Linked DNA regions of Homo sapiens. The protein of the gene in region 1 purifies or fractionates together with the protein of each later gene. This does not show direct contact. Each region holds a gene or a part of one and is shown on either strand. Other genes may lie near its edges.

The links.
Region 2: the proteins of RORB (region 1) and GLB1 purify together in Homo sapiens (affinity purification with mass spectrometry, with the first as the bait; one large-scale study listed by BioGRID). This does not show direct contact.

What each region holds. Positions count from the first base shown.
Region 1 is NC_000009.12:74,495,695-74,500,140, reverse strand, and holds the start of RORB (nuclear receptor ROR-beta), read right to left. Parts: upstream 2,807-4,446; 5' UTR 2,165-2,806; coding exon 2,158-2,164; intron 1,900-2,157; exon of another isoform or gene 1,588-1,899; intron 1-1,587. UniProt on the Homo sapiens protein: Nuclear receptor that binds DNA as a monomer to ROR response elements (RORE) containing a single core motif half-site 5'-AGGTCA-3' preceded by a short A-T-rich sequence.
Region 2 is NC_000003.12:33,013,385-33,017,192, reverse strand, and holds part of GLB1 (beta-galactosidase isoform a preproprotein), read left to right. Parts: intron 1-352; coding exon 353-484; intron 485-2,882; coding exon 2,883-3,137; intron 3,138-3,808.

The DNA.
Region 1 (4,446 bases):
GCCTGGCGAGGCTGGCGCCCTCTTTGATAGGTCTGTGGGCTTAAACTGGTTTTCTCAAGGTGAGCATGAGGACCAGCGCCTGGCTTTCAATCCTTCCAGCTTCTGGAGTCCTCAAAGCGACCGCCGTGGCGAACCAGGACAGTCATCTGCAAACTGCTCCTTCAGGAGATGCTAGATCAAGCTACAACCCATCCCCACCCCGCGCCGCACTCCTTCTACGATGTAAGGAGTGAGCGGATTTTATGCCCTAGGTCCTAGTGCTGGGTCCGAGCTGAGGTGGCGCATAGTTTACGACGTTCAGAAAGTATGAACCCAGCCACAGGGGGAAAGTTAGAAGGGAAGAAGGGGAGGGACGAACTGGCAGCTCTGGACTGGGACGGGGGAAACCGAAAGAATGGATGGGATGGTGAGATGGGCTAGAAAAAGAAAAACAAAAGACCGGGCGTCTCTTACTAAGCCAAGGTTCTCTACTCTCCAATTGCCCAAGTATAGTTTCTTGAAAGAATTTAGACAGTGGAGCGTGTAACCAACCCCCAACCGGGACAATCAGCTGGAGCCAGCGCGCACACACACGGGTGCCCCACTCCCAGCGAGCCGGCCAATCAAGACCATCCCATCAGGACGTCCTTGTTTCTTATCTACAGTCAACCCCCTCCCCCATGGACAGTCTCTCTCCGTTCCTTCTTCTCCTTCCCTTTCCTGACACATCCCAGCGTCCAGCCAGCAAACCCTTGAGTCCAGGCTCGGGGCTCACCGGGTGCGGGAGGGAGTGGGAGTGAGACCCGCTGCCTCCTGGGGTGCTCCTCTAGGGGCGTAGGGGGACTGGGTGGGAGAGGATCACTTTCAGTGGAAGGAGGAGACCAGTGATTGCATCCCAACTCTCCCAAGTGCTCCCTGCCTAGACCACCTCTCTCCGGGTCTGGGATGCAAGAAGGTCTGGAGCTGGCCGTTACTAACTTTCTGTTGTCAAGACCCAGGGGTACGTGCGAAGGATAGAGAAGAGCCCCCGATTAACCGCTGTGTGGCCAGGAAGAGGGACTGGGAGTGGGGGTGGGTGCCCAGAGCTTGCACAGATCCCCATGTCAAGCGGACACCCGCCTGGCTCTTCAGTAAAAGAGTGAAGAAAGGCCGAGCACAGCGCGAAGGAAACCTGAGGTCTCCGGCAAGGCAGGAGAGGAGACCAAGTGACTCCCCGAAACCCACCCTCCAGCCCTTCGAGAGGCCCAGAGTCCAGCCGGAGCAAGCGTAACGCTACAGTCCCTGGCGCGCATCCCTGCAGACCCCAGCTCGCCCCGGGGTCCCGCCGCCGCCGCCGCCACCGCCTGCGACTGCGAGGGTCCTGGCCCGAGGGTGCACCAGCACCTCCTTCCACTACCGGCCCTTTATCTGACAAAAGAGCCGGAGCCCATGACTCTCCGACTGTGAGCAGTGTGGCCTTTCCAAGCCTCCAGAACTTTCTCATTACAACTTTTCCGGGGTCGCACTACTCCCTGGGCCGCGCGGGCTCGGGCACGAGGACCTGGCCAGGGCGCAGCGCCGGCACGAAGGCGCGCGCCGCAGAACTGTTTCCTCAGCCGCGTGCCGGGGAACTAACTGTTTCCTCAGCCGCGTCCAGCCTCGCAGCACTGCTCTTCTGCTTGCTACTCCAGCGAAGGGACATGCCTGCTGGCCAGGACGCTTAGTGGGCCTCGTAACCTGGCGAGTGTGTGCCCGCGCGTGTCCACCCTGCCCCCGGCCGGTGCGCCCCGCGCGCCCAAACCCGGCCGGCGACCACTGCGCGCCGGGCGCTTCCAAACTGCTCCTGTCCAGAGGCATCCCTCTTTCGGCTTTCTCCATCCCGCGTCCGCTTCCGCACCCGAGAGCGACAAGCAAAAAAGATTCAGTGCAACTCAAGGACTGGTAAGAACCAACTAGCCTGTCTCCCCTCTCCAAAAAAGCGCCCTCCCGCGTCCCTCCAGAACTCCCGAAAGACATCAACACCTTCCCGCAACTTTCTACGCCCAGGCCATTTGCAGCCCCACCTGCGAGAGCGAATTCGGGGAACTGCGCCTGGGCAACCTCTTTCCCTTTCTGCTGGGTGCCCTCCCCTCCCCCATCTCCCCGTCTGGCTGGAGTTGGCCGGACTCGGGGAGCCTCGGTGCCCGCAGACTCGCTTACCTCGCATGGTGTGGCCGCTCTCCCGCTCCGCGTAGTCATGAAGCTGCTCCCAGCCCGAACCCCGGAGAGCCCAAAAATCCCGCTCAGCACGAGTGAAGAAGGTGGTCGGCGAAGAGCTGCTCTGCCGAGAAAACCATCCCTTTAGGCGGACGCCGTGGCTGCAGGGTGACGTTTGCCGCCGCCGCCGCTATGTTAACAGTTTTGATGTTGGTGGTGACTGTTTTGATGATTGTTTGTTTGTTTGTTTGTTTTCAGGAAGGGTGAAAAAAAAATGTTCTGGCTGTCTGGTGCCTGGGTTTTGTTTTGGTTTTGTTTTTCTTTTTCTTTCTCTCCAATGTGCTTGCTTTTTAAAAAATGCCACCGCCTCCGGCTCAGAAGATTTCTTTTGTGATCACTTGGACTGAGGAGGAGGAGGAAGGGCAGCAGCAGGAGGAGGAGTTGGTGGTGGTTTTGTTAGTTACAAAGAAGAGGGAGAAGGAACAAGGGGGAAAAAAGGAAACAGAAAGAAAAGAAAGAAAGGCGGTGTGGATGGCAGAGCATGTGCGTTTTCACATGACATCTGTGCCTGTTAGCGGATCCACAATGTGAATTTTCACTGTTCAGTTACAGGGAGGAAGGGAGCAGCGAGAGAGAAAGAGAGGGGAGAGATGGAGAGAGAGCGCTGAGAGGGGCTTATACGCGAGGGCGGGCTTGGCCGCGACTTCCAGGCCCCGCCTGCTGTCAGCGCAGCCGCCAATCAGAGCCCAGCAGCGCCTGGAGAGGCTGGGACCGCGGGGAGGGGACGTGGTGGAGGCGGGGGGTGGGGCGGGGGCTGGGGACCAGGGAGTCCGAGGTGGCCGGGGCTGCGACGGGGAATTCGAGACTGTCCGAACTGGGCAGAGAAGAAGGGCCGACCGGGAGAGTCGGGCAGATCCGCAGGTGACAGGCACTTCCGACTCCAGCAGAGAAGGGGACACTGATCACGGAAAACCTTCGGAGGCAAGAGACGCGGGGCTCCCCGGGTTTCACGTTCGGTCCCTGTCTCGCAACCCCCGCGGGCCCGGCAGAGTTAGTTTTGAATTTATGGCAGCGCTTTGCCGAGCGCTATTTGGGTAAACTTCGGTCTCCGGCGGGGGTTTCCGTGGGCAGGTGGTTTGGGTGTTGGTGGTAGAATAATGCAAACCCACTTTCATCACTTTTAGCACAACTAAAATGCAGTCCCATGGAAGTAGCTGTCCCCTTCCTTTAAAAACGTCCGTCAGATGCTCCCTGACCCTCTTCTAAAAAAAAAAAAAAAAGAAAGAAAGAAAGAAAAAAACGTGTATATGTTCTTTTGTCTGGGAAATTGATTTTTATTAGCATTTGGAGACTCCCCTGGCGATGGACTACAGGACTGAAGGAGAACAGCTCAAATTGGCGGTGTAGCCACCTTACTAATTCAAGAGAAATGGCTGTTGCTAGAAGGTGTGATTGCAGGGTGCTCTTTAGAAAGGTTTTAGAAGGAAGACATTGTTAACTTTAGTTAGAGGCGATTGGTAACTGAACATAGATAAACTTACTTGTATTCCTTAGGTGAAAATTGTCATCTATGACCATTTATTTGTATTTTGATAAAAATCTAATACATATATCCAAACTGTTCCTTTGCAAGTTTTTCCAACTCAGTTGACAAAATAAGCATATAGATGATTACATCTACTTCCTTCCCAATAGTAGGGAACTTCTTAAATACTTGAGTTAATTGAACACCCTAAAAGATTGGGAGGTGAAAATATTTGCCTCATTCACTCAGTCTTGAGGCTGGGAGATGTCTACTCATTAGCATACCTGTTGGCACAGCAGGCCTCATCATCATTTAAGTATCCAAATAATTTGATTTTTGACTGGTATTTATTCATGATATGTCATGTAACACAAAGTACAATGTAGAATTGGCAGTTATTTAGTTAATTAGGTCGCTCTACACTGCCAAGTAGTTTTTTCCTTCCTGATTAAATGAAAAATGAATTATCTGCTGAATTTTCACCAGTATTAAATTGACGTAGCCCTGCTATATGCCATCCCATTTGCAAACCAATGTGTAATTTAGGAAAATTTTAGTATTAAGAGTGAAAGTTGATTGAGTCATTAATTAAATGAAATGAACAAAAGGAAGTTACTGTTTAGAATAGTTATTCCTTTATAAATATCTTTCTCCTAGATTTGTAATTGACACAGTAGTTAATCTTTTAAGATAATATTTAAGGCTCCCTGGTTTTATCATTTTTAATCAAGTAAAATATATTCATCATAACTATGTTAAAGCTGTAC
Region 2 (3,808 bases), on another chromosome or scaffold:
TGAGTGACTTTTGTGCTGTCAGAACACGAAGCAGCTACTCTAGTAAGAATCCTCCCCTGGAATTTTCCACTAAAAGTAGTTGGCAGTAAAACATTCCAGGGCAAAGGAAACCAGCTTAGACCGTTCCATGCTCTGAGCTGTGTCTGGCAGTTTTCCTGTTTAGGAAGCAGTGATTGGGGGATCTTTCCGACCTGGCCGGTAACTTGGGCTAAGATGCTATCAAAGCATTTCTTTCCAAGTCTGGTGACACTTCAAGGCAAGAAAATGAGTGCTAAATTAACTGAGCATGCTGCCTCTCCTTGCTGACCTTCTTACCCTCAATTCAATTGTCATTTGGTCTTGAACCCCACAGATCCCCCAGGGAGTCCTTGAGCGAAACAATGTGATCACTCTGAACATAACAGGGAAAGCTGGAGCCACTCTGGACCTTCTGGTAGAGAACATGGGACGTGTGAACTATGGTGCATATATCAACGATTTTAAGGTAGGACAAACCACACTGTCAAGACTAAGGTTTAAGGGGTGACAACTTAGAAGTTGAAGCCCAGTACAGTGGCTCACACCTGTAATCTCAGCACTTTGGGAAGCCAAGGCAGGAGGATCACTTGAGGCCAGGAGTTCAAGACCAGCCTGGGTAAAATAGTGAGACCTCTACAAAGAATTAAAAACTTAGCCAGGTGTGGTGACATGCACCTGTGGTCTCAGCTACTCAGGAGGCTGAGGCAGGAGAATTGCTTGAGTCCAGAAGTTGGAGATTAAAATGACCTATGATCATGCCACTGCACTCTAGTCTGGGTGACAAAGTGAGACCTTGTCTCAAAAAAAAGAAGTAGTTGAGCTATTTTGAAGAGCTGTTTTCCTCTGTAGGTGATGAGAAAGTTGAGCTTTGCAAACAGAACCTTTCCCCTGTGTTTGAGTTTGGTCATCCTATAGAAAGAAACAGAAGGAGGAAGCCCCTCCACCATGCTTTTCCTCTGCTTTAAAAGACCACCAAGCTCACTGAAGGCACTCCTTTGCCAGTAAAGCCAGCTGAGCCTCTGTTCTGCCCTGTTTTATGGGTTTGGATGGTTAGCCTGTGGCAAACTCTTCACTTGTAGGAAGCCTCTTCCCTTGGGGCACTGGCTCTCACCTCTGTTGATTACTCCTGTGTCCAGATGTGTAGCCCAAATAAGTTTTTCTAACACATATTTTTAGAGCATTATTCAGCAAGCATTTGTTAAGCTCCCACTCCGCGAGATGCCCCACCAGGTGCTTTGGGGAATGCAAAGGTGTCAAGAGACAGGCTTCTCTCAGGGAGCTCAACCTCCGCGAGAGGAGAGAATGCCTTATCAAGGGAACAATGGCACCACCCAGGCTAGGGCAGGACAGGTGTCTGGGGCTATTTCCTGACCCTCTTGAGATCAGGCAATTACATCTTAGGGAACTTAGGGAATAGCTGTGTGCAGGCCACCTTTGCCTCCAGTATAAATGTCTCTCTCATAGTTCTTGTGCTCAGGGTGGACTTCATGGCCTCCTGCCTGGCTCTCACAGGCCACATTGACCCATGGGAGTGACTCGACTCTGTTGTGTAGTCTCTGGGTCTCCAGTACCTGTCAAAGAGCCTGACATACAGCCACCTGGTTAATATTTATCAAATTATTAAATGGGCAATCGAGACTTGGTATCTGGGATTCCACTGGGAATGGGGAAGTTCCCTACATACAAGCCAGGGAAGGGGAAGTTAGCTGAGCCTTGACAGCCCAGCCCTGGCCTGTGTGGAACAAATAGAGCAGCTTCTGAATTCAGGTCTGAGGTTTGCCATCGTCATCATTACCTTCCTATCCTCTTAAGGTATCACAGTATTCTCATGTATGTTATCTCACTTGGCCCTCATAACAGGTGAGTGACTCGGGTGTGGTCCTCCCTGTGATGATGGCTGAGGTGCTCAAGGCCAATATTTGCTCCTGGCTGCATCCGTCGTACCTGCTCCATCCGCAGTGGGATGACTATTCCTTTGTATCCCACACTCACTCATTCCTTCTGTCCCCAGATTCCATCTTGAGACAGGATCTTGCTGTCACCCAGCCTGGAGCGCAGTGGCACAATCTCGGCTTACTGCAACCTCTGTCTCCTGGGCTCAAGCAATCCTCCCTTCTCAGCCTCCCAAGTAGTTGGGACTATACGTGCATGCCCCCACACTAGGCCAATTTCTGTATGTTTTGTAGAGACTGGATCCCTTTTTGTTTTGAGATGGAGTGTCGCTCTGACACCCAGGCTGGAGTACAGTGGCGCGATCTCAGCTCACTGCAACCTCCACCTGTCAGGTTCAAGCGATTCTCATGCCTCAGCCTCCTGAGTATCTGGGATTACAGGCACCTGCCACCACACCCAGCTAACTTTTGTATTTTTAGTAAAGATGGGGTTTCATCATGTTGGCCAGGTTGGTCTTGAACTCCTAACCTCAAGTGATCTGTCTGCCTTGGCCTCTCAAAGTGCTGGGATTACAGGCATGAGCCACTGCGCCTGGCCCATCTTTCTTGGTGCCCATCTTTCTCTATTCTAGCAGTGGCTCTCAGCCAAACTCTGAAAATTTGGGAATTTGGGATCAATCACTCTAGCAACTCAATGCCCTTTCTGTAGAAGCAGAAACTCTGGGCCTTTTATAGAGACATCATGACCTGCAAAGGAGAAAGCTATAGTTTGGGGAATATATCTCTTCCCAAGGATTTGTAATTCAACCTCCAGTTAGATCTGTGTTACTTCGATGTACACATATTTCGAGGTTCATTTCCTGTTGGTGTTTTGTATCCCGGTTTGCTTTTCCCATTTCCCTGGAATGCAGAGACATGTGAAGCCTTTTTCCTTCCCTCCCCAGCTCACTGTGCTCTGTTTCTGCTTTGCAGGGTTTGGTTTCTAACCTGACTCTCAGTTCCAATATCCTCACGGACTGGACGATCTTTCCACTGGACACTGAGGATGCAGTGTGCAGCCACCTGGGGGGCTGGGGACACCGTGACAGTGGCCACCATGATGAAGCCTGGGCCCACAACTCATCCAACTACACGCTCCCGGCCTTTTATATGGGGAACTTCTCCATTCCCAGTGGGATCCCAGACTTGCCCCAGGACACCTTTATCCAGTTTCCTGGATGGACCAAGGTACGTGTCTTCATGGGAAGGGTTTGAATTCAGGCCTAAACTTTTGGTTGTTAGTGTCTGAGAAAGAATCACAAAGAGCTGTTAGTGAGATATCGTGTGATGGTTTTGAGTGTGGCGTTTCGGACATTCTTCAGGAGGCGGATTGTGGCAGATCTTCAGGGATTCAGTGGCCAGCTCGGAGGTGCTGCCATCTGCCCCCTTGTCATTGGCTTCCTGTAGTGAATGACACCATCCTGCCTCCTCCAAGAAGAATCATGACCCCTTTTGATGCTGATTATAGGGGTGCTTTCTCTTTATCTTGAGGACAATCCAGTCAAGACAAAGAGGTGGATCCCTCTGGGAGAGTCTGTCTGGTTTTCATTTATGCCAAGCCCAGTGCTCCCAGAATATCCCCACCTGCATCCAGCCCCACACCCCTGGGGCTTCTATCATAAGCTGTCTGCTTCTCCACTCTTCCTCATCCATTTTCACTTCCCAGTCACTCCGCCTTGTCGTTTGAAGACATTGGCATATCTTCCTTCACCGCCTTCTCCTCTCCCTCATGTCCTGTTTTCATCCTAGATCACCTTACCATCACTCATTCAACACACTTCTCATTCTGTGGCCACTATGTGCCCAAGGTGTGTGCCAGGCACTAAGGATACAATCATGAATAAAACCAAACATGGTCC